Linked DNA regions of Homo sapiens: all the other regions are linked to region 4. The links come from fine-mapping of genetic effects on gene expression. A gene starts in region 4. Each other region holds a variant in brackets. All regions are shown on one strand. Distances are from middle to middle.

Region 1 (5,724 bases), 470 kb after region 4:
TTCCCCAGGAGGGAAACACCTTTCATGGAGGTTCTCTTTCCTCAAGCCACTTGTGGCGTTTGTCCTGCTCTGGACCTGCCCTGAGATGAGATGTGGGAGGAGGTACAGTCTTCTTCCCAGTCAGGTCTCTGAGATGCCTTCCACTGAGTCCCCATCAAATGAAAGAATTTCATCACTTCCTCTGCCCCATCTAGTTGTGCAGGAATGTCTGCTCTGATTGCTGCTGCAAAGAAAAGATTCCACTTTAGTGAAAGGCCTCAGTGCTGCCTCAAACGTTAAATGTTGGGCTTCTTATAAAATTCTATTTCTGTCCTCTCCAGGTTTCTAGACAGAGACCTAGAAAAAGGCCCTAAGCAGATACAGTGGTGGGAGCCCCATGATCCTCAGTTCAGTTCACGGCCAACCTGGGTGCCCAGCAGCTTCATCCCTGAGATCTGGGTTTATCCAGCAATGAAGCCTCTAGGGAACAGCCAGCACCTGCTGGAGGGCTCTGATCCACCACACAGCTGTGAGAGTGGCCTGGCCCCATAAGAGAAGGGGGCTGGGAGCCTCCACACCTGGGTCCCACTGTCGGAGGCAGGCCACCCCCACCCCTCTCTACACTGCTGTTCTCCCCTCATCCCTTCCCCTCTCCTTTCTCCTCACTGACATCCTTTCCCTCTCCTCCCCTTCCCCTTCTTGTTCCTCCTCAGATGACATCAATCAAATAGCTAGTTTTTCTACCCCAAGAATCAAAGGTTCCTCCCCTCCAGAGGCTCTTCCCAGTAACCTAAAGGCAAAAAATTCAGCACAAAATAAATAGCTATTAATTTGTTCCCTTGGTTAGAGAGATGGGGCTATTCATGTCCAGAAGACACTTACCTGTGAAGAATCAGAGGTATTTTAAACAGGCGGGACTTTACCGTTACTGTTCTCCTTATAAGGAGTTACACATTTGCTTGACTGGAGGCTTCTCACATGGCCTTGCTTCCCCCACCCCAACAGCAGGACTGGGAGATAATTAGGGAGGTGTTTATGAGGAACAAGAGTTGAAGAAAAGTCCCTAAATGTCTAGCAAATGTGGATTCACAGGAAGGGCTCTGGTGGAGCTTGGGCCAGACCTCTCCCCAGCACTCCCACCCTGCCCCACTCCAGCTGAAGCAGGCAGAGGGACTCTCTCTGGAAACAGAGGAAGTTTGAGTTTCAGGGCCCCTCACTTGGTCTGGCCCTCCAAGGCCCTGGGAAGATCCCCAGTACTGTGTTCCCATGGTCTTATATTTTTGTAAGATTTGCAAAAAAATACATAGTTTCAACACAGTTGGGTTCAACTGCTGTTTCTTTCCACTACAGCTTCCTTTTCCTCATACTTCTCTGATCAAATGGTATTGGAATAGCTGTGGGCATTTGGGGGATCCAACTAAGGGGAAGCTGAATTGAGAGTACATTTAGTTTAGATTGAATGCGATACATTTGTGTGGGCTGCAGTCACTTCTGTGCATGGCTAAGCCACTGCTGTCCACCCCGGAGTAGGAACAGCTTACAGGAATAATGCACAAGGCTGAATTAAATATAAACGTGTCCTATGGTGCCTGGCATCAGAAGTCTGTGGGTAGTGGAGGAAAAACAAGGTTTGAGATGGACTGAGCCAGACTGGGGACTCTGTTGAAAATTCTTCTAATCATGAGATGTATAAAATGCAGTTTTCATTGATGCCTCATCAAAATGGAAATTCAGGAATATATTCAATGGCAAAGCATGTACACTGATAAGTACACTGTGCATTGCTTATGGGAATTGCATAAAATAAAAATTATCAGAAATCTTGCATTTGCAGGGCATTACCCTGTAGCAGTGAGGCACATAGCAAGCGTGTCTGTGTGTGAGAAAGAGTGCTTTAATGCCTTCCAACTATCAACAATTTTGATCAGTCTTGCTAGAGGAAAGACTGCCTTATCTTTTTATTCTCTAATACAAAATCATTATCATATAAAGAGAGTAGCAAAGTCAGTAGGCAAAAATTCCGGAAGAAAGTTATTTTAGCAGTGTGTCAGACAGCTAATTAATTAAAATGTTTTGTATTTTTCCTGGGCTTTGAGAGGTCTATTGCATTTGCCAGCTTTAAAAACATATGTAATTTTTTTTGTAACTTATCCTTCTGAAGAGTCACTTTCACTCCCAATTTTGTGTTTATATTTTTGTATTATTTTCCTTAAAGAGAGAGCCCCCAAATTGTATATGCCTCAGGCTCCACAGTCTGAATCCTCCCTATGGGGAGTCTCTAGAAAAACGTTCTGTTTACTCTGCCTCAAGAAACCCTGCTCCAGGCTGGGCACACAAATTCCCAGGGCATTTTGGTCAATGGTTGGTTGCAGAGGTACCAGGTCACCTTCTTTCCAGAATGTGTGTTTTTGGGGCTATGGAGGTCTTTTTCCTGATGGCTGCTGTCCTAGGTTCTCAGGGATGCTTACCTTGCCAGGAACGACAGTAGTGAAGAGCTGCTGTTGATGCTTAATTTCTCCAGCATCCTGAGGCCCAGCTGTTCAAGTTCTTATTTTGGTATAAATCTGAGGTTCTTTTGATTCAAGAAGACGTAGGATAGTTTTCTGCCAAATCTTTTCTCAGATTCACATTGTGTTTGGGTTAGGTCATCTGACACACAAGACTGTCTCATTCCTTCTGCAGCAGGGGATTGACCAGTTTTTGGTT[TTGTTTA/A]ACAGAGTTGGCGTGGACCTGGATGAAAATCTGAAGGAGGACCCCTCCTCACAACACCAGGCAAGTCAAAGAAACCAATGCACATTATATAGAGATATGATTGTTCTGTTCCATAGGCTGTTCCATGTTTGTCCAGCATGTGACCAAGGAGCTATTTCTAAACGGAGCTTCCTCTGCTGATAAAACAAATGAGATTACAATAAAATACAAGGGAATTCAGGGTGTTGATAACTTCTAGCATATGAATGCTTAGAACTAGCATGTACTTGCAAGCCTCTCTATGGCAGCAGGAAGTCTGGAAACTTTACAAAGTATATGATGGCTCTTGGAATGAGGCACTTCATAGTTCAAATCCCTACCCAGCAACTTGCTAGCTAGCCAACTCAGTGAAATTTACACAAAGTATGTCCAATGCATGTTGCACAAACAACAAATTGACTTATTTCTCCTGGATAGCTTCTCATTTATCAGGTCTAAGGCCCAAAAAACTGTCTAGGTGATCCATCCTTTGACTTAATTGAGCAACAATTATCTACAGAGACCTGAAAATCCTTTGGGGTAATTGTTTAGAACAATGAGTTCTTCCCTCATATATTAGTTCATTTTCATAATGCTGATGAAGACATACCCAAGACTGGGTAATTTATACAGGAAAAAGGTTTAATGGACTTACAGTTCCACATGGCTGGGGAGGCGTCACAATCAGGGCAGGAGGCAAGGAAGAGCAAGTCACATCTTACATGGATGGTGGCAGTCAAAGAGAGAGCTTGTGCAGGGAAACTGTTTTTAAAACCATCAGATCTAGTGAGACCCATTCACTGTCACAAGAACAGCATGGGAAAGACCCATCCCCATAATTCAACTACCTCCCACCAGGTTCCTCCCACAACACATGGGAATTGTGGGAGTTAGAATTCAAGATGAGGTTTGAGTGGAACACAGCCAAACCATATCACCTCAAGTAGGGGAAATGCATTCTCCAAACTGAATTTGAACCTAACGTCAAAGTAGAATCTATCAATGTCAGTTTTGCACTACCATTTTAAACTCAGTACTTGTCACAAATAAGAAAATGTAGGGAAATTTTACACCTTTTTGCTGAAATTAGAAGTAGGCAGACATAGATATAATAGGAGAATATCATAAATAAGTGATATTGCTTAATGAATTGTGTTATGAGCGTATTTGTATTCTAAGGGAATCCCTCTCTTTTATTTCATGCTTGTTTTTCCAATAACACCATCAATGAGGCACAACTGGTGAGTTTTCCTGGGCAAGACACTGCTTTCCTGGCACACACAGATGTGAAAAAGAAAGGAGCCTGTGCTCTGTGGAAAAGGCTGGGAAATTAAGTTGGTGATGATCCTGGCTCTCATGTACTTTGAGGTTTTTTGTCACATGTGTTCCAAGGCCAGGCAGTTTCCACAGACTCCATTGTCCAGGAAACACACCTAACTGCAGGATGGAGCACAGCAGGGGTGCCCAAAGCACTGGGATTAGAGCCAGCCTGGTGACCTTAGAAAGGAGATCAAAGCCCATCTCCTTACACTGGTGGGCTATAATGAATAGTCAGTAATGTCTGGTGGTGGCTGATTTTTAAAAAGCATTTTCATCTTGTGTAGGTCAAATAATTCATTCTCCTACCTTCAAGAAAACTTTTATCTAAATTTTGTCCTTCTTGTATACCTTTTTCTTTAAAAGAAGAAAAGACACAATTATAAAATTCATCAAATAAAATTCTCTGTCTTCTTCTAACTGCCTAATATTCTACAATCACATATACTGTTATTGGTAAAAATTTCCTACTAGCCTAAATCCTTTCCAATTTAAATGTATTTTATTTTATCTCATTCATGTGACACTTTAAAACAAAGTTCATCATTGTTAAATCAGTAATAACCCTTACCTGAAGATATTATAGCAATTAAAGTTACTTTTTTATTAGAGAAATAGGATAGCATAACATAGAACAGTGAAAATTCTGTGATATTTGGGTCTTGGGCAAGGTGTTTACACCTTTGGGTCTCAGTTTCCCTCTCTATAAAATGTAAATGATAATAACGTCTGCCTCTCCAGGATGTTATTTATGATAATCAAGGGAAATTGGGTTTATGAAAATGACCCAACTTAATTAAGCTAAACCCATCTCATTTTATGGATGATTGGAGGCAGCTTAAACCACCACATATAATAGTAACATATTTTTATAGAAATTTTAAAAATCAGTAAAAAATATTAATAAGAGCAGATAGTCAAAACCAGAGGGGTATAAAGAATCATGGATAAGCAGATCATAAGGCCTTATAGACTTACTGTAGTCAAACCATAAGTAAGCTTTCTGATGGCCAAAGGGGAAATAAAGAAATAATAATTGGTAATATATTAAATTCACATCATTAGAAGGAAAAATAATACCCTCTCCTCAAGTGACACGAAACATCACTATGTTTTTAAAGACATTTCTCACTTGGGGCCTCCTGTAGAGGACACATACAGCACTATCTAAATGTTAAGTAAGTAGCGTTATCATTGACATGGCGCCTCCTGAACTGCTGCTACCTACAAATGATTTCATTTTTAAGAAGTATACTGTAAGTGTTCTTATTCATGATAATGTTCGATTACCAAAGAACTTACGTTTCAGAAAGAGGTTTTCTCCACACATTGGGATAATGCTTATCTTCAGTATCAAGTACAGGAAACAGTGGGCTCTGATGGGAGGTAACAAGCTGCAGTGTCCTCACAGCTGCCACTGAACCTGGACCGTTTTTTGGTACTTCCCAAACTGTCAAGAACCTCTCTGCTCTCATTTTGCCTGGCAACACCTGTCTTATTATCAACATCTCTTGCTCTGTTGGATTATGTAACATAACCCCAATTCTTAGGAGGATTGTATGTTTCCCCTTGATTTGCATTTATTAAACTGGGTTTGCATTAACAAATAGGTTAATCTTTGTAATGGGCAGCCTTAACACATACACAGAAACCCTTCTTACTTACCAAAGGCTAAAAATTTTGCAGGTAGTTATAGCT
Region 2 (5,724 bases), 23 kb after region 4:
TCACAGAAGCCATTAGTGTGGCCCCACTGGGTCCTTTTCCTTTGTGATATATTTTAAAGGGAGTATTTTGCCTTTGTTTCTAAAAGTTACATGATTTGAAAATGGGTTTTACTCTTAGAAAAATATAGTTTAGTGTCTTGGATGAAATTTCTGACTTCAGGATTTGGAGAGGCTGGAATGAATTCTTGTGCTATGTAATGGCCTCTTAGAAGATTTTATAAGAGCACGTGTATTTCTGGGATGGTTAGGCATTGACGTGCTTAGAGACAGAACTGGTTTGATGGCTCTGTGAGTTCCTTCCAATAAGAAGGTATAAAACTGGAAAATATGAGAGCTGTTGGCATTTATATAAACAGCAATGTACTGTGATTTTATGCCATGTTTAAACATATAAAAATTTCAGGAAACACCATATGCCAAACTTGTTTTGTTCATGCTCAACACAGATAAAAGTGTAGAAAAGAAAAAAAATATTTTCACTTAAAGATTGGTGAAAACAGTATTCTTCTATATGTTATGAGCAGACGATGAACTCAAAACAACCTTCTAAGAGGATAAAACAAGACCATGTTGCTCTGTATCTGTTCAGCCAATGTTTCCACCACCATTTGTCAAATTGTTCTGTGTATACAAGATACCTGCAACTGGTTGTAACCCTTTAGGGCCTACATCCTATTACATGATAGCTTTGCAAACATAAGTTTGTTATGTAATATTTAGGAATACCAAAATGTCTACCAAATATTTCTGCATTTTATGTCAATAGGAAGTTCAAAACCTGTTTTGAAGAGAAGATGATAAAATAACTTTCTGTTTCATACTTTCATTCATTTATTCTTTCAACACAAATGAACTGAGTCCTATCAATTTCAATTCTGAAACAAGATGTGGTCCCAAGGAGTTTAGTAGTAAATCAGAGAAAAACATAGCATATGAATAAATGAATGAGTAACACTAAAGGCACGTATCAAAAAAGTGGGACAAGAACCACAGGCGTCCAGAACAGGACAGTATGGTCTCTTATTAAGGGTAATAGGAAAGATTTCTAAGAAGGGCAGTTGATTGACTCTGATGATAGGGGTATGTGTGGTGTTGGGGGGACAGAGGGGAGGAATTCCATGCAGAAGGAAAAGCATGATATGGATGTGGGAAAAGGGGTAGACAATATTCCAGGAAAGAAAAAGCATTTCCAATTTGTTGAAGTGTGGAAGACCAGTGAAACCTAGAGCTGAAAATGAAGGCAGACCTTGATTTGGAAGCCCCTGAATGCCAGGCTGAGTAATGCCCTCTCTATTTGTAGTCAGAGGAACAGTGTAATGTTGACAAAAGCAAAAGGATAGTGTGCCTGCTGTGTACAGGGTAGAGAGTGAAAGCAAAGAGACAGATGAAGCCTAGACTTGGATGGTAACCAAGAGGTAGATGCAAGAAAAACGAGGAAGGAAGGCTGTGAAGGGCTTGGCCCAACTAGTCAGAAGAAGAGGAAAAACAGCTTCCTCTGCTACCCTGGTCATGTGGGTTCACAGAAGGGTGGTGAGGCAAAAATGTGGAAGTTAAAAGTTAGAAGAAGGAGTTGATTTGTAGGAGAAAATCACAAATCACAAATATGGTGGTTTTTTTTTTTTTTCAAGACAGAGTCTTGCTCTGTCGCCCAGGCTGCAGTACAGTGGTACGATTCCAGCTCACTGCAACCTCTGCCTCCTAGGTTCAAGCAATTCTCATGCCCTAGCCTCCCAAGTAGCTGGGACTACAGGTATGTGCCACCACGCCCAGCTACTTTTCGTATTCTTAGTAGAGATGGAGTTTCACCATGTTGTCCAGGCTGGTCTCAAACTCCTGACCTCCAGTGATCTGCCTGCCTCAGCCTCCCAAAATGCTGGGATTATAGGTGTGAGCCACAGTGCCTGGTCACAAATGTGGTTTTAAACTGATGAATGAATGAATCAATCTATTTCATCATTAATTTATTCATCATTGATTTAGCATGTTAGGTGTTTATAATACTCAGTTGGAAGGGTCAGTGGGCCATTTGGCTGGAAAAGTCTTGCAGATACAGTAGATTATCAAAAAGTTGTCAGTACAGTTAAATTTACACTTCCTATCACTCATAGATAAGTTGACTGTAATGCAAAAAGTCAAAGGAAACTACCCAGCGAAAATTTTGCCAAGTCTTCACTTCCTGTGTGACAAGTAGACACTATCGCTTGGTAAAGGAAGTTACTTTGAAGTGAGTTACACTGCTGAGCAATCTGTCCTTTCTATTCTTTCAATAAAGAGAATTGCCAAGCTGCAAATAGGTCATCAGAGCTCGTTTCAATTGTGTTGATAATACTACATATTTTAGAGCTACTTTAAGGAAGCCCTTATAGAAACAACTAACCATAAGACTTTTAAAAGTAATTTTGTTTTTGAAGAATTAAATAATTAATTTTTTGTAGCTTTAAATAAATAAATCAAAGTCCTTTTTTTTTTCTCACCATCCAACTTTTCCTAATGGTGATTTTGATTTTTCATCATTCAGAGTTTTAATTCTCATATATTTATTTGTAAACTACATTTGCATTTCTAGTCTTTTCCTTTACTTGAGCTTCAATAAGGCCAGGGGCAAACCTCTTCCTGTAACAGGAAT[C/T]GCTTGAGCAGAGAGAGTCATTGGGCCATGAGATAAATATGTACAGTTAACACTAGGACACTCTTGGGGAGGATAAACAAAGGACTGAAAAGAAATTTTTTAAGAAACTTTTCTAGGCACACTGAGAGAAAGCAAGCTTCATGATGATAAATCAGCATTGGGGGTGTGGAGAAGCATTTGTAGGATACTATCAATTATTCTTCCTTTCAACAGAGAATAGGGCTCCATGATTTGTGTTTCTCTATCATGACAATTCTTGGCTCCTACCACGTGAGATGGTTCCAGAGAATGTCAAGTTTGGCAGTAAATGGGATGAGGCTGTTTGGGCGGATGCAGCTCCTTTCATCCTAAACCTTATTTAAGAGATCTGCTGTTACTAAAGAAACTAAAAATTTGTTTGCTTTAGCTGTTTTCTTCCACTTTCATTCAACATTTTTGGCAAAAAGTTGGCCTGTGAGATGACCTCAGAAATGTATTTAAAGACTCTAAATATTCCATTTGGTTTTGATTTCATCATTGAACAACACAGATTTTCTTCATTCCTTCAGTCATTCAAAAAATATTTATTTATTGAGCACTTGCCACTTGCCAGGCATTGGTTTTAGGTGCTGCAAGTATGGTAGTGAACAAAACGAAGTCCTTGTGCTCATGGGGTTTAACTTCCTGGAGGGGGATAGACAAAGGAAGTTCAGCACAAGCATTTGTAATCCAGAGCCAAGTGGAGGCAAGTGCTATGAAGAGAAGTTAGCAAAATTAGAAGGTTCGGAGTGAAGGGTCTTTAGATATGTCCTGCAGAGAAGGCCTCACTGAGGTGAATCGGAGCTGAGTCCTAATGAAGTGGGGACTATGCCATGCAGAAATCTGGAAGAAGGGAATTTCAAAGCAGAGGACAAAACTAAGTAACAGTAAGTGCCTGCTGCTTTCTGGAAGGCAGTTTTTTGTTTTTGGTTTTTTGGTTTTTTTTTCCTGCCAGCTCTTTGCCATTTTATTCATGAATATTCTAAGATCATTTTGTATATATAAAAAGTTTTAGAAAAAAATATTTTTTAAAGTAGAGAAGGGCAGAGAAGAAGAGAGAGATCATCTTGGAATAGGGATTGGAAATCTAGAAACACAGGGACACTCTGCTCCTAGGGGCAGGAAGTGCCATGAGGTACCATGGCCACTTTTGAAAGCTTGCCTTCAGAATGCACCACGCAAATACTAACTTCCAAACTTTTGATTATGCACCCACCAGTGAAATGCGTTTGAGAATATATCCATATACCTTTTTATTTACAAGTTGGATGTAAGGACTACTGTATCAATATACTCTATACATTATAAAGCAGATATCAAACTAGAATTTTTTAAAAGGATGAGATAAAATGAAATATAAACAGAAGTTCCAGTATGTCCTTTGCACACCAAAATCATCCTTTCCATTCTCTAAGATATGGACACCTCATCTTAGAGAACAATATAATATCTTATATTTTATTAAAATTTTATTTTTATTGTAACTATTAAATATTTTTGATAACATCTACCTTTAAAAATTCCACTCTTTTCTGAAATCTTTTTTAATGTTTAATTTTTAATTTATTTTTTAATTTTTTTATTTTTTATTTTTGTGGGTACATAGTAGGTATATATATTTATGGGTTACATAAAATGTTTTGATACAGGCATGCAATGTGAAATAATCACATAATGGAGAATGGGAAAGCCATCCCCTCAAGCATTTATCCTTTGTGTCTTTTCTGAAATCTTAAATTCTGTATTCTGAGTCTTGCGGCACCAGTATGTGCATGGGCTGTTGGCCTGACATGAGGATGTTCTTAGGGGCTGATTACCTCTGGGAGAACACTCATCTTCACCCCGAATGTCCCCATGCTACTCTACTACAGTATCCAGGTCTTTTGTCTCATAGGTCTGCAGTCTCATAGCTCCACCTGACATTCCCCCACTGCATTTTAGCTGAGTTGTAAGTTAATATTTACTTCTATAATGTTTTGATTCATGTCTGTCTTCTCAATGTCACTTGTCTACAGTCTCACTAGACTGTGGGCTCCAGGAGGGCAGAGACTAGGTCTGTTTAGTGGTCACATTCATTCCATGATTCCTGGCAAATGGTGAATTCTCTGTGGATCTTGATAAATGAATGGATGATGTAACCAGGTATCTATCATTCTCTGCTTGTCAGTAGCTCCTTTTTACTGCTACTCTGTCCTGTCTTAATTGCTGGCTATTTTGTAACCAAGCATCTAACCTCAGATTTCTCCTCAGGGTGAATTATGTGTGCTCTGTGATGGTTGTTTACTACTCAGAGGACTGAACTGCTAAAAAGTCTGCTCTCCAAATAATTGCGTAGGGATGGAAGGAGGCAGAGAGAGATTCAAGGCAGGGAGAGAGGGAGAGAAAAGGAGCCTGAGCAAAGAACAGAAAACAGAGAGAGAGTGGAAGGGAAAAAAGAGATTTCCCATTGTACTTTAAGTCTGAGTAAATAATATTTACAATGGATCTTTCAATTCTTTTCCCCATTGCTTTGTTCCTTCTAAAATATTAAACTGTGGCAAGAGTGCACATTTATCATTGCTGGTCTCCAGCGAGTAGTTATTTAAAGTTCCACCCAGCTGCATTTCCCTGTTCTCTCCTGAGGTCATTAGGAAGCTCCTGTTTAGTAACAGATACAGCCTGAGGTAGGCTCCACAGACAGCTGGGCACAGGAGGGGAGGGGACCTAACGAAGCTGCACATTCAGCTGGTTGTCTCTTGTTGCCTTTTAAGCTTGCCTGGAGTTATGGAGTCTCCCAGCTGCTCCCTTCACATCCATTTCTGATCACAGGACTAAGTGGGCTCTGATTTATCGAGTTCTGCCCCAGGTTGGGGTGTGTGGAGCAAGAATGTCCTGCAAATTCGAGTGGTCTTCATCTTTCTTTCTAACTGTCATATGATGGGTTCCCAGAAAAGTGGTGGACCCTCAGGTAGTGTGTAGTGAGCAGGAAGTTCATCAAGTGCCCTTGAGATTGACACCTTTCAGTAGAAGAGGAAGGAAGCCTGAGTGGGTAGAGAGAGAAATGAAGCTGAGATGCAGGCCCAACAATTGTGGCTGCCTCC
Region 3 (5,724 bases), 100 kb before region 4:
GAGATAGATTGCCTTTTTTACAAATAAGGAAGTTGAGGTTCAGGGCAGTTAAACAATTTGTCTTCAATCACACAACAGTTTAGTGGCAAATTTGAAAATTAAAGTTCTGGTTTTTTCTACTATAACTCAGCTTTTCAACAATTTTACAAACTGAATATCCTCTTGTGACTATTATAATAGAATGTACTTGATGTATTAAAATTCTCCGTGGAAGCTATCAAAAATAATGCTAACTTTATTAACTAATTTTTAAAATACAATAGCATAAAAATAAATTTTTATTCATAATTTACTTACTAAAAATACTTTTGGATTGTTTGAAAATTAAAATACAGGATAAAACCATTTTAAGAGAAAACACAGTTATAGCTGAAAATGATCATTTCTTTGTCATAAGAAGACCTTTCTCATTATAGTCTAAAAAGACCTCATGCATCATCCAATATACTTTTCATGGTTGCTTTACACGTGCCTGCCAAGAACATTTTAAAATTTGTAGGGGGCAAGTTTTCTCTTAGGTACATTTTCTGTAGTAAATAATTGTAATTACATTATCAAGTGCTAGTATAATTTAGAGGTCACAGGTATAACTCCTAGAGAAGGTAATTCACTGTGAAAGGAAATGACTGCCCCACTTTGTTTAAAAACAGTCCAATATGTTAAACTTGAGGGGAAAAAAACCACTCCTCTCAGTATAGCTGATGATCTAAATTTATTTCTGCAGCCCTGACTGCTTCTGTGAACTCCAGATGTACATATCTGCCAAATGGTCCCGCCCACTAGGATGATCATTAGGCACCTTTAATTTAACATAGCCCTACTAGAACTTATGTGTCAGCTTGTTATCTCCATCTTGGAAGATGGATAAAATTAAAACATTCTTATTTCTTCTTTCCTTCACATCCACATTCAGCCTATCAGCAAGTACTGCTGGACACTTTCAAAGTCTATTCTAAGTCCAGACACTTGTTGAAACCTTGACTGCTACCACCCTAATCCAAGTTACTGTTATCTCTCACCTGACCTATTGAAGTTGTCTCCTAAATGCCTGTCTGCTTTTACCCAACCATTACCTATCACTCAGTCTCTAGATGGAAGCCAGAGTGATATATTTATTATGTAAATTGGAACATACCTGTTACTCCACAGCCCAAAACTTTTGAATGGTTTCCCATCACATCTGGAATATGGCTCAATGTCCTTACCTTGGCCTAAGGGCCTACATACCATTCTGGCTTCATCTTATACTGCTGTCCCCTTAACACTGGCCTAGTCATGCTGTCCTTCCAACTCTTACTAGGAACACACCAAGCTGGCTCAAGTCTCAAGGCTTTTCCACTTGCTATTTCTTTCACCTGTCTCCAGAGATGTTTGCATGATTCAGTTCTTCACCTCATTCATGTATCTGTCAAATGTCCTCTATGAAGCTTTTTTCTGATTGCTTTATTTAAATTGCAATGCTCTCCACCACTCAATTCCTTTTTACCCCTTTATTCATTTTTTTCCTTGCAAGTATTTATTTTCTGTTTTCATATGAATTGTCCCTCCTACAGGAATAGGAGCTTTGTCTTTTTCATGGCTCCATCCCCAGTGCCTGGTACAGTGCCCAGTGCTTAGATAGAAATAAACATTTTTGAGTAAATGGATGAATGCATTTATTTAAATAATTCGTAGTTCTAAAATTGAGGCAAAATGGTTTAATTTTAAAATGTGTAATGCTAGCTTAATAAAGAGTTATTTTGCTTTGGAAAAATTTCAATCAGCTAAAATTGTAAGCCAATTTGCTTCTCTGAAAAGAGTCGATCTGCTCAGTGAAACAAGCATTAATTGGCACATCTGGTGGCAGGTGCAGGCATTGCAAAGATAAGGCCTAAGAAAACCTAATTTGTCTTCATCTACAGCAAGCAGCTTGCAACTGGGGCCACACATTATAATCACCTGGGGAGGTTATAAAATTCTGATGAGTAGGCAAAACTCGAGAACAAGTAATTCAGAATATTTGAGGGATCCAATTGGGACATCATTAACTTTTTTTTTTTTAAGTTTCCCAACTGATTACAATAGATTGAGAATACTGAGATTACAAGATTGAGAATCACGGATGTGTTCTATGAGGTATGGGGTTTGTGGAAAACTATTCCTGATGCTAACACCAGTATGGAAGGTATTCAAATACCTGTTAAATGAATTAATGAGTGAGTGAATGAATGTAAAAAGTGTTGATGGCCAGTTGACCTCATGAGCACTATCTGAAAAACCATTCAAAGACATTAGCCTACTGATGCGGTTGCCAGATTTAGCAAATAAAAATACAAGACTCCCAGGTAAATCTGGAATTTAAATAAACAAGGAACTCTCTTTAGTAACATATATCTCAAATATTTCATGGGACATACTTATACTAAAAACGATACTATTTGTCTGTGATTAAAATTTGACTGGACATTCTGTATTTTATCTGGCAACTCCACATACTGATGAGGGAACAGTTAAGGTTCTCTTCCAAAAATCAGCATGTTATTATAAATTTTAAACAATATACTGAGGTGTATTGTAGAAGTATTAATTTATTCTCTTCTATCTTCAACAATACAAAGCTACTATAAAAACAGTCTATGCTTAGGAATAAATTTAATTTTGCCTTTTAAAGCTTTTAATGTAGTAATCATAAAAATGAGTTCTTTGTGCATTATAAATTTTCCAGATTAATTTGGAATTTAAATTCTTCAGAATCTGGTTTTGAATTGTCAAATCTAACACCCTAGAATGGCAAAAAAAAA[AG/G]AAGGAAAATTCAGTGTTTTTAAGACCTATGAAATCCACTCTCAACATGACCTCTGAATCAGGAACTGCATTATTGATACTATATCTTCAATTCTCATTACGCTCCTAGGCAATGTGAGAAAGACAGGAATCCCTCAGACTATAGAACTTTACCTTAGTTATTTTAGGCTCATTATACTGACCTACTAAAACATTCTCATGGTAATAATGAATAAGATCTGACTGTAATGCTGGAAAAACAAAACTATTGGAACAAATCAGTTGAATAATTAATAATGCAATCAGAAGCCTCAGGATACTGCTTTTTTCTTAAAGGACCCAAAAAGTTTCAATCAATCCTTTGCAAATGCCTGGTAAACATCTATCCACCACCAGGTGGCATGCTCACATGTTCAGAAATTCTCCAATGAGTGGGTGACACAAAGGGTCAATTATGGTACATCATGAGTATAGAAAGAATGGAATCATGAGAATGCAAAACAAAAAAGAAGGACTAGTCCTTAACTATTTGCACTTCTAGCATTTTCTTTCCAGGTTGCAAGGTATGGACTAGTCTTATGCTTCCTGCAGAATTTGCAAAGTGGCTTGCTTAGAATGGGTCAACAAGTATTTGATTTTATTTGAACACTGTATTTTATTGTTAGAAGACATTTTCTTCAAAACTTGTTCAAATGTAATAAAAACCAAAGTTCTTCAGCAGTTTCCCTGTTATATGTAATTTGTTTGCAGAAATTTTAGCAGCCATGCAAATGAACAAAAAATCAGAAGAGAAAAAAATGTCTATTCAAATAGAAATTCTAATCCATCTATTCCATAATATCGACTCTTTGGGTAAAGGCAGTCAGGCAAGCTATATATTTTCTGCATATCACTTGGGCTGACAATCTGCAGTGAGGTTACAAGAACACAGGAACTCAAACTGATTTTTCTGACATTAAGTACATCTGGCATCATGTTCTTTCATAAACATTACTACACCTTACTTTTTCAGCGCTTGAAAATTGACAAGGCCCATAATAGCTTTGGGGTTTGTCAGTTCCCAGCAGCACATACTATTTAAAATGTTTGATGTGAATGCAAACATAACTTTGGAATAAAAAATTTCAAATTTTGTTCCTTGAAGGCTTAGGGAAGTGGATCCAGGGCTGGAGTGTTTAGTTATATTTTGACTTTTAGAAGTTGTCTTCATATCTACTTTGCAATTCAGTACCAAGTTGGATGCTCTCAACTCTAGAGATTATACTTAAAATTATTTGGTTCCCTAAATATGTTTGTCAAATTTCAGACATATACTTCACTGTGGTTTTTAGTGCATTGATTTTTATTTAAGTAATACCTATGGCAATAGCAATAATAATAATACCTACGCCTTGCTGAGGCAGTATAGTAAAAGTTAAAGGCAAAGGCCCTGGGAATTTGTCTTCCTGGATTCTGATCCTAGTTCTGCCTCTTACTAGCTGTGTAACGTTGACAGACTATTTAACCTCTTTAAATCTTAATTTTCTCATTTGTAAACTGGAGTTGATAATAACATCTACCTCCTGGCACTGCACACTATATGAGAAAATATGTACAATTTCCCTTACCCCAGCATGTAGTAGGCACTAGATGATCAGTGGCTGCTCTTTGTAAACTGGAAGTTAACACTTCAACTAACTCATCTGTGAATTAGATATAATAACAGTAAAGTATATGACACTGAGCTTAGTGGCTGGCACATAGTCGATAAATAAGAGCTATTATTTCATTATTCTTTTTCAGGCACTATACATACCACGTCTCCAAGAAAAGTATTATCCAATATTATCTCCATTTTATTCGGTGGAAATTTAGGTTCAGACAAGCTAGAAAGTAGTTGGACCAACAGTCAAGCCTCCAGTTGGGTCCAAAGTCCCAGATCCTTTCAAGATAATCTATTTGGCTCTAATGATATGTTGAACCAAACACCATTCTGAAATTAAGAGAACTGACATTGAAGGACCAAGAAATATGTTTTATTTCAACTTAAGTACTCGGAACACTTCTCATACCACTTGGTTGATACTCTACTATATAATAAATGAAAAATACATTGTTCATTCTGAGTTTTGAGACCTTGTGTAAAACATCACAACCATTTCTTCTATCATTCACATAATTAAAATGCAAAGATTGCGTCACCAAAGAAAGAAAAGAAAAAAGATAATATCAAATTCTTTAAATTTTCCAAAATCTCTGACAGAGTTGTATACTTGTTTGTACCTCTTGGTGCACTTTAAAAGTGCAAGAAAGCTTACATTTTAAATTAGAAATATTTTTTACAAAGATGATACTTGAAATTATTATTTCTACCTCTAAGGCTTTGTTTTTAGGTAAAGTGTTTACAAAATGCACCTGCCTAAATATAAATGATTTAATCAGGTGGTGTTCTATATGTCTGGGGAAACATCCAGATGTTTGTGGTCTTAAAAAAAGATATTTTCAAAACAAACACTTTATTTTGCCACTTTTCAGCTGCATGTGCTAGCCTCACTATTACAAACTTAACAATAATTTGATTTTTAGTGTAAAATAATCTGAATTGTTTCACAGAGCAAATCCAGTTCAAAAAATATAAACTTTAAGTCACTTTGAAAACATTCTGGTAAATTAGAATGGAACAAAAACGAAAGTCTGTCTAAACCAGGGGTTAGCAATCATTTTCTGTCAAAGACAAGACAGCAAATATTTTAGACTTTGTAGGACACATGGTCATTCTTGAAACTACTCAACTTTACCTTTGTAGAGTAGACAGGTGTGGCTGGATGCCAATAAAACTTCATTTACAAAAGCAAGCAGCCAGTCATAAGCTGCATTTGTTTGGCCCAGTATAAAATACTGAAGATACCAGACACACTTTATTTTGGGTAATAAGTAAACATTTGCCATAATCTATAAGGGAGAGAAAATTTCAAAATGGTGGCA
Region 4 (5,689 bases):
CACACGGGGACCATGAATGAAAGAAGAGGGATGAATGGACTTGTGGCAAGCTGGTTGCAAATGCAGCAGGCAACCACTCAGCCCCAACAGATTGTGGCCATGTAAGAAGGGCCCAGTGTGCCAGATCTTACAAGTTTTTCTTGCAAAAAGCCATATGATTTTTTAAATGTTAAATATACTGATTTGAATGTGTTGACATCAAACCTAAAACTTTTTAAAAAGACGTGTAAGCCAATCAAAACATTCTATGGGCCATTAATCTTTTGTCAAGTTGCTTCATTGGTTAAAAGAGTGAAACTGGATGTCACGGATCAACCAGAGAATGTTTATTCTACTCAGATGGAATAATTGTGATAAAAGAAAACCAAAGTAATTCAATAATGACAAAAAACAAAAGGACAGGAAGTTTCTGAATTTGTGTTATCTTGTATATCTGACAACTCGACTGAACCTGTGGAGTTGCAAAATCATAAAGGTAGAACCTGCTAGCAAAGCTCCATGAAATGCTTGCAAGCATTAGCTGATAGGTTTCAAAACAGTATGAATATTAGTCATCACAGATATTCCTGCCAAAAAGGGTAGCGTGTCAGAAGAACATCTGCAGCACACATAAATACCCTCTGCTAAGTTAAACTCAGAGAGGAAATAAGCTTCCAAAGTTGCACAAAGCAAAGATGCTGAAACAGCAGAGCTTTGTATTAAGGGGTTGATAGACTTGCTCTCATGGTGAAACTGTTTGTTGAGGAGGTAGTTAGCTCCCAATAATATTACATGCTTGACCTTTAGCTTTTAGTGACAAAAATTGTTTCAGGACGCATTTGGGCTCAGCCTACTCAATAAGAAATCACATTGTATAAATTGAGCATTAATTGTGTCAAAATGGGGATCATAAGTGATTAATACTCCCAAATTACAATGATATGGTAAAATGAAAAAAAAAATCAGCTAACCCCAGGATATACCCAAATGTGTTATAGGATCAAGTGTTAAAAGCAAGCAGGTCATAATATTTGCTAAGAAAAAAGAAAGAAAAGGAAAAAAAAGCTGCAGAACCCATGGTATTATCTTGAACTATTTTAAAGTAGAAAAATATGAAATCAGACAGGAGCAACCTGCCACATGGAAGATGATCTGAAGAATCATCACTCTTATGATCAGAATCCTGTGAATACAGAGCTTTCATTTCTGGTGGCAGAACCATTTCTCAGTGAGCAACATTGTTTTGCCATAGGACAGAGGAGGTTGTGATCTATTGCAGATTTCTGTGGGTCCTGGATGCCGAGACCAGGAACCCTACAAAGAGAAATCCATGCATGTGGCGTTGCTGAGGATGGCTGCGTGAGTTTCTCTTTCGAAGTAATGTGTTTTGTTTTTTTTCTTTTTTGTCTCAACGTATCCAAACAGTACAGTTGTAGAGATGGGGATGGAATTTTATTTGTCTTTTGCTTTCATTGTTTTCTCTTGTTAAAAGAAAAACAATTGATTTAGAGTTTAAAGGCTGCTCTGCAACTATCAATTATATAAAGCCAAATAGAGTCATATACTAAATCCTTTCTTGCTTCTCAACTAAAAAAAAAAAAAAAAAATCCTGTGAAATCACTTTAGGTTTGCTTAACCAATGTACAGTCATGATTTGAGAGCATAAGAAACCCTATAAGAAACCCTATGCCTTAAGTGAATCCCATTGTGAGATACTTGAGCTATGAGGCGGAAGTTTCAGGCTAAGCAGTGTAATATCTTTTCAGGAGGCTAATATGCTGATCCATTTAGAGCACAGAGGCTGATTGATAACTGTGCTATCAATCCCCATCACTTTGGCAGGTCTTGGTTAGAGAGGAAAGATCTTGCATTTAGGTGAAGTTGAGTCAGGAATTGGCTTTTTGAACTTAGAAAACGTTGCTAGTGTAAGGCTACCTTTTTTATTATTAATCTACAGTTCATATTTATGCAGCTTAAGAAGACTTATTTGGAATAATAAGACCGTGATTCAAGATCTTAGCATCATTGCTTGCAGATTTGTCCAGTATGAAAGATATTTTCATGAGATGAATCACTTAAAGACATTAAGAGTCAGTGATGAAACCACACACTCTCGAGTTTGAAAAGAGACAGGGCTGCTTTAAGAGAGAAACAGGAAGTTGTAACTAGAAGCCATCTGAATACTAAGCCAGGGCAGAATGCTTGTGAAGTAGCAACTAAAGTGGCAGTGTTTCTTCTGAAATTCTCAGGCAGTCAGACTGTCTTAGGCAAATCTTGATAAAATAGCCTTTATCCAGGTTTTTATCTAAGGAATCCCAAGAAGACTGGGGAATGGAGAGACAGTCAAGGGTTATGTCAGAAAAGGATGAGTATCAGTTTCAACATCAGGGAGCGGTGGAGCTGCTTGTCTTCAATTTTTTGCTCATCCTTACCATTTTGACAATCTGGTTATTTAAAAATCATCGATTCCGCTTCTTGCATGAAACTGGAGGAGCAATGGTGTATGGTGAGTGCATAAATTGTGAGATTGATGTGAAACTTGTTGCTTGAGCGTAATTAGAGACTTGTGCTCAGATAGCAAAGTACCGAAACTGGAGAAAATGTGCTGATTGAAATGTCATTAGTTTGATGAAAGGTGCTGCAGCGTAACGAATGCTAATCTCTTTACAGACAAGCCGCCGAAATTTGCCATGTCACGAGAGCAAATGTCACAGTCATGTTCTCACACGGCACATAATGCAAGTCTGTTGACAGATGCGGGTCCATTGTCATGTGGGGAGTCGAGGGCGAGCTGTTTGTTTTTGTAATGATGTTGGGAAGTGATGGCTCTGCAGTCACAAAGAGCAGCCTTCTCTCACTGGCTGCACCGATGAACATTACGAAGTTCTAGAAAAAACATCACTTCAAAATGCCTGGAGTAATTCCTCTTATATCAACTAATTTCAAGAAGAAAACTTGCAGAAACTAACCCCACCCCTCTTAAGAGAATATTGTGTCCAAGTCCTTTTTATTTATACGAACAGTGTCTTATTTTCTTATAATAAAAAGTTATAAATAAACGAGAGTTTCTTTATGCAGTACTTTTTACTTCTTAGCCTGATTTCAGATGTTCTAATTTATAATGATCATTGCTAGTGTTATTTGTTATGTATCTCCTATTTATGTATTGGAGGCCAAGGTGTGGAAAAATATTTAACACCTGCAGTATTGCTCTTTCTGGGCAACTTACCGTATCATTCCTTTCAGAAAGTTTAATAAAGTCTGACAGAGATTATCTGTCTGTACTCTCATCTTTTAAAGTAAAATGAAAGACACCAGTTTTTACTGGTGTTACTGATGAAATAGTTTACTTCACTGCTCTTATCTCAGCCTGATAATGGATAGGAAGTTTGAACACAATGGCAACAGGCAAGGCATTGCTATAATTTATAGCAAATAACATACTTTTATATTTGGGGTTTCCTCATTTTGGAAATCCTGAAACCCTTTCCTAAGCCTGAGATTCAGGGTACAGATCAATGCACATTGTATATGCTAATCCTGTGGTGTCCTGATATTAACAGTGTATAGTTGTGATTTCAGAACCTAAGGAATCCTAAGCCTTAAGTGGATCCCACTGTGAGATACTTGAGCTATAAGGCGGAAGTTTCAGGCTCAGGAGGCTGATATGCTGATCCATTCAGAGCACAGAGTTAAATTCCTTGGTACTGAGGGTCTTTTAAAAATTTTTTGCTTGGGAGTGGGGAGGGACAGCATTAGGAGATATACCTGATGTTAAATGACGAGTTAATGGGTGCAGCACACCAACATGGCACATGTATACATATGTAACTAACCTGCACGTTGTGCACATGTACCCTAAAACTTAAAGTATAATTAAAAAAAGAAAAAAAACATAACCCAAATGCAAAAAAAAAAAAAACCTTTTTTTGCTGTATTGTTTTATTTATTTTTTAAAATTTAGTGGAGACAGGGTCTCACTATGTTGCCCAGGCTGGTCTCCAACTCCTGGCCTAAAGAGATCCACTGACCTTGGCCTCCCAAAATGCTGGCATTACGGGCATGAGCCACCATTCCCAGCCAGTATTGAGGGTCTTAACGGGCACAAGAAAACTCTCATTTAAGAGAAAAAAAAAATCACAATCAGGTGGGAGAGAAATAGCCAAACAAAAAGGAGGGGATGCCATCAGATGTGAAGCCCTAGGTTCCTGTCATTTGCCTATCTCCATCATGAACAGAATTTTTCTCTTGACTTGACTAATAAGTAATCTGCAAGGATATGGAATAGAATCTGAGAAGCCAGAAACAATGTAATTCTTGATATCATATTAAAGGGACATATGTGCTTTAGCAAAACTACCCAGATTTAATAGATTGCCAACCTTTATTAGAGGGAAAGATTTCTTCACATCCCTGAATTTGATTGAACTATGACTCATTTACCAAGTTCAATGGTGGGGATATTGTTTTCGTAAAAGTTTTGATAACCTACTAAAATTCAGTCATGTTTTGCATTCACAATACATACAGTAACTCTTACTTTTGAATCTGAAAAATTCCAGGTTACCTTTAATCCTGCAAAACTCTCTGAAATATTTTTAAATTGTGCTTGAAATAATAAAATAGTAGTTCATTGACCACTGCTATTGAGGTAGCATTTCTCTAAATTGCTGTTCTTAAGGCAGATAAAGGCTTAAAGTTTATGAGTGGAATTAAGTTGGGTTCTCTGATTCCTATTCTTCTTTCATGAGTTTTTTAAAGTAAAAGTTATTGAAAGCAAATTCTGAACCAGTGCAATGTAAAAGGATTATAAAAATTATGGAGATATGCATATATATGTATTCTCTTACTAGAAATTTTGAGTATCTTTCAGTTATCTTGAACTATATAGATCAATGAAAAGACATATTTTAGTGATGTTTAACTTTTTCTTGGCATAGAATCATAATTGTTAGGATGTCAAAGAATTTTAGAGGTTATCTTCTCTATCCCCTTTATTTTAGAGAGGCAGAAGCTGAATCCCAGAGAAGTGAAGGGACTTTCCAAAACTGAATAGCCACTCATGACTGGTCCATGTGCTTTCACTCATCTGCATGTCTTACTAAGGTTCACGTTCACCTGAAAGAACTCTCCCTGTGTTTTCTGAAAGTACTCCATATGGGTGGCATTCATGACTTGTCACATTTCTTCTTCAGGGATGTCCTAAATGTTATATCTTAAATGCTTATTAGGAACTTTCTATCAGTAATGTAATAAAATAGTCTGAAACTACACCAGAGGAACATGATGGGATACTGTAGTAAACACTTTTTAATGATAGGGGAAAGGAGATGCCAAGTGAATTAATTGTCCAACAGCTATAAATGAACTTGGAATCATAGATGGGGAAGGAGCCTTAAAGATCATAAATCCAGCATTCTCATTTTGCAGACAAACAAATGAAGACTTAGAGAGATAAAAGTCGTGTAATTAGTTAGCTGTTGAGGTGGGATTCAACCTCCATCTCTTTAATAAGAGATGCTAAGATATTTAAAAATAAGTAAATTATTGCAATAATTTTCCTGGAGAAAGGATGTGTCTGTGGGATCTAGATGCATCCTCATATGGTTAAGCTTTCAGGATTAGCCAGATTCTCTTTTCCAGGAGGTCTAAAAGAGTGAATTTTCAGCATCCCACATTGTACTATCCCCCTTTCCATTAAAGGATTAAA

Alleles and levels. Positions count from the first base shown, and alleles are read on the strand shown. Sizes are in standard deviations (SD) of each study's normalised expression. Not every link is listed here.
In carriers of allele AG in region 3, the expression in monocytes after LPS of the gene that starts at base 2,165 in region 4 tends to be higher than with G alone (moderate effect, 0.69 SD a copy in Fairfax 2014).

The links. PIP is the estimated chance that this variant, and not a neighbour inherited with it, causes the effect. A credible set is the group of variants that fine-mapping cannot tell apart.
Region 1: its variant is the best candidate, but not a certain one, in a credible set for the expression of SLC9A9 in whole blood (TOPMed, PIP 0.50).
Region 2: its variant is the best candidate, but not a certain one, in a credible set for the expression of SLC9A9 in blood mononuclear cells (TOPMed, PIP 0.84).
Region 3: its variant is the best candidate, but not a certain one, in a credible set for the expression of SLC9A9 in monocytes after LPS (Fairfax 2014, PIP 0.54).

The regions. Positions count from the first base shown.
Region 1 is chr3:143,379,087-143,384,810 of GRCh38, reverse strand. It overlaps SLC9A9 (solute carrier family 9 member A9), which reads left to right. Exons shown (of 16, transcript NM_173653.4): 13 at 2,697-2,751. Among named protein-coding and RNA genes, the nearest start is that of SLC9A9-AS1, 40 kb to the right of the region's middle. The variant TTGTTTA/A (reference allele first, on the strand shown) is at 2,686.
Region 2 is chr3:143,822,160-143,827,883 of GRCh38, reverse strand. The region is part of intron 2 of SLC9A9 (solute carrier family 9 member A9); the gene reads left to right. Among named protein-coding and RNA genes, the nearest start is that of SLC9A9, 23 kb to the left of the region's middle. The variant C/T (reference allele first, on the strand shown) is at 2,627.
Region 3 is chr3:143,949,003-143,954,726 of GRCh38, reverse strand. No RefSeq gene overlaps it. Among named protein-coding and RNA genes, the nearest start is that of DIPK2A, 20 kb to the left of the region's middle. The variant AG/G (reference allele first, on the strand shown) is at 2,781.
Region 4 is chr3:143,844,944-143,850,632 of GRCh38, reverse strand. SLC9A9 (solute carrier family 9 member A9) reads left to right here and starts at 2,165. Exons shown (of 16, transcript NM_173653.4): 1 at 2,165-2,485. The coding sequence starts at 2,311.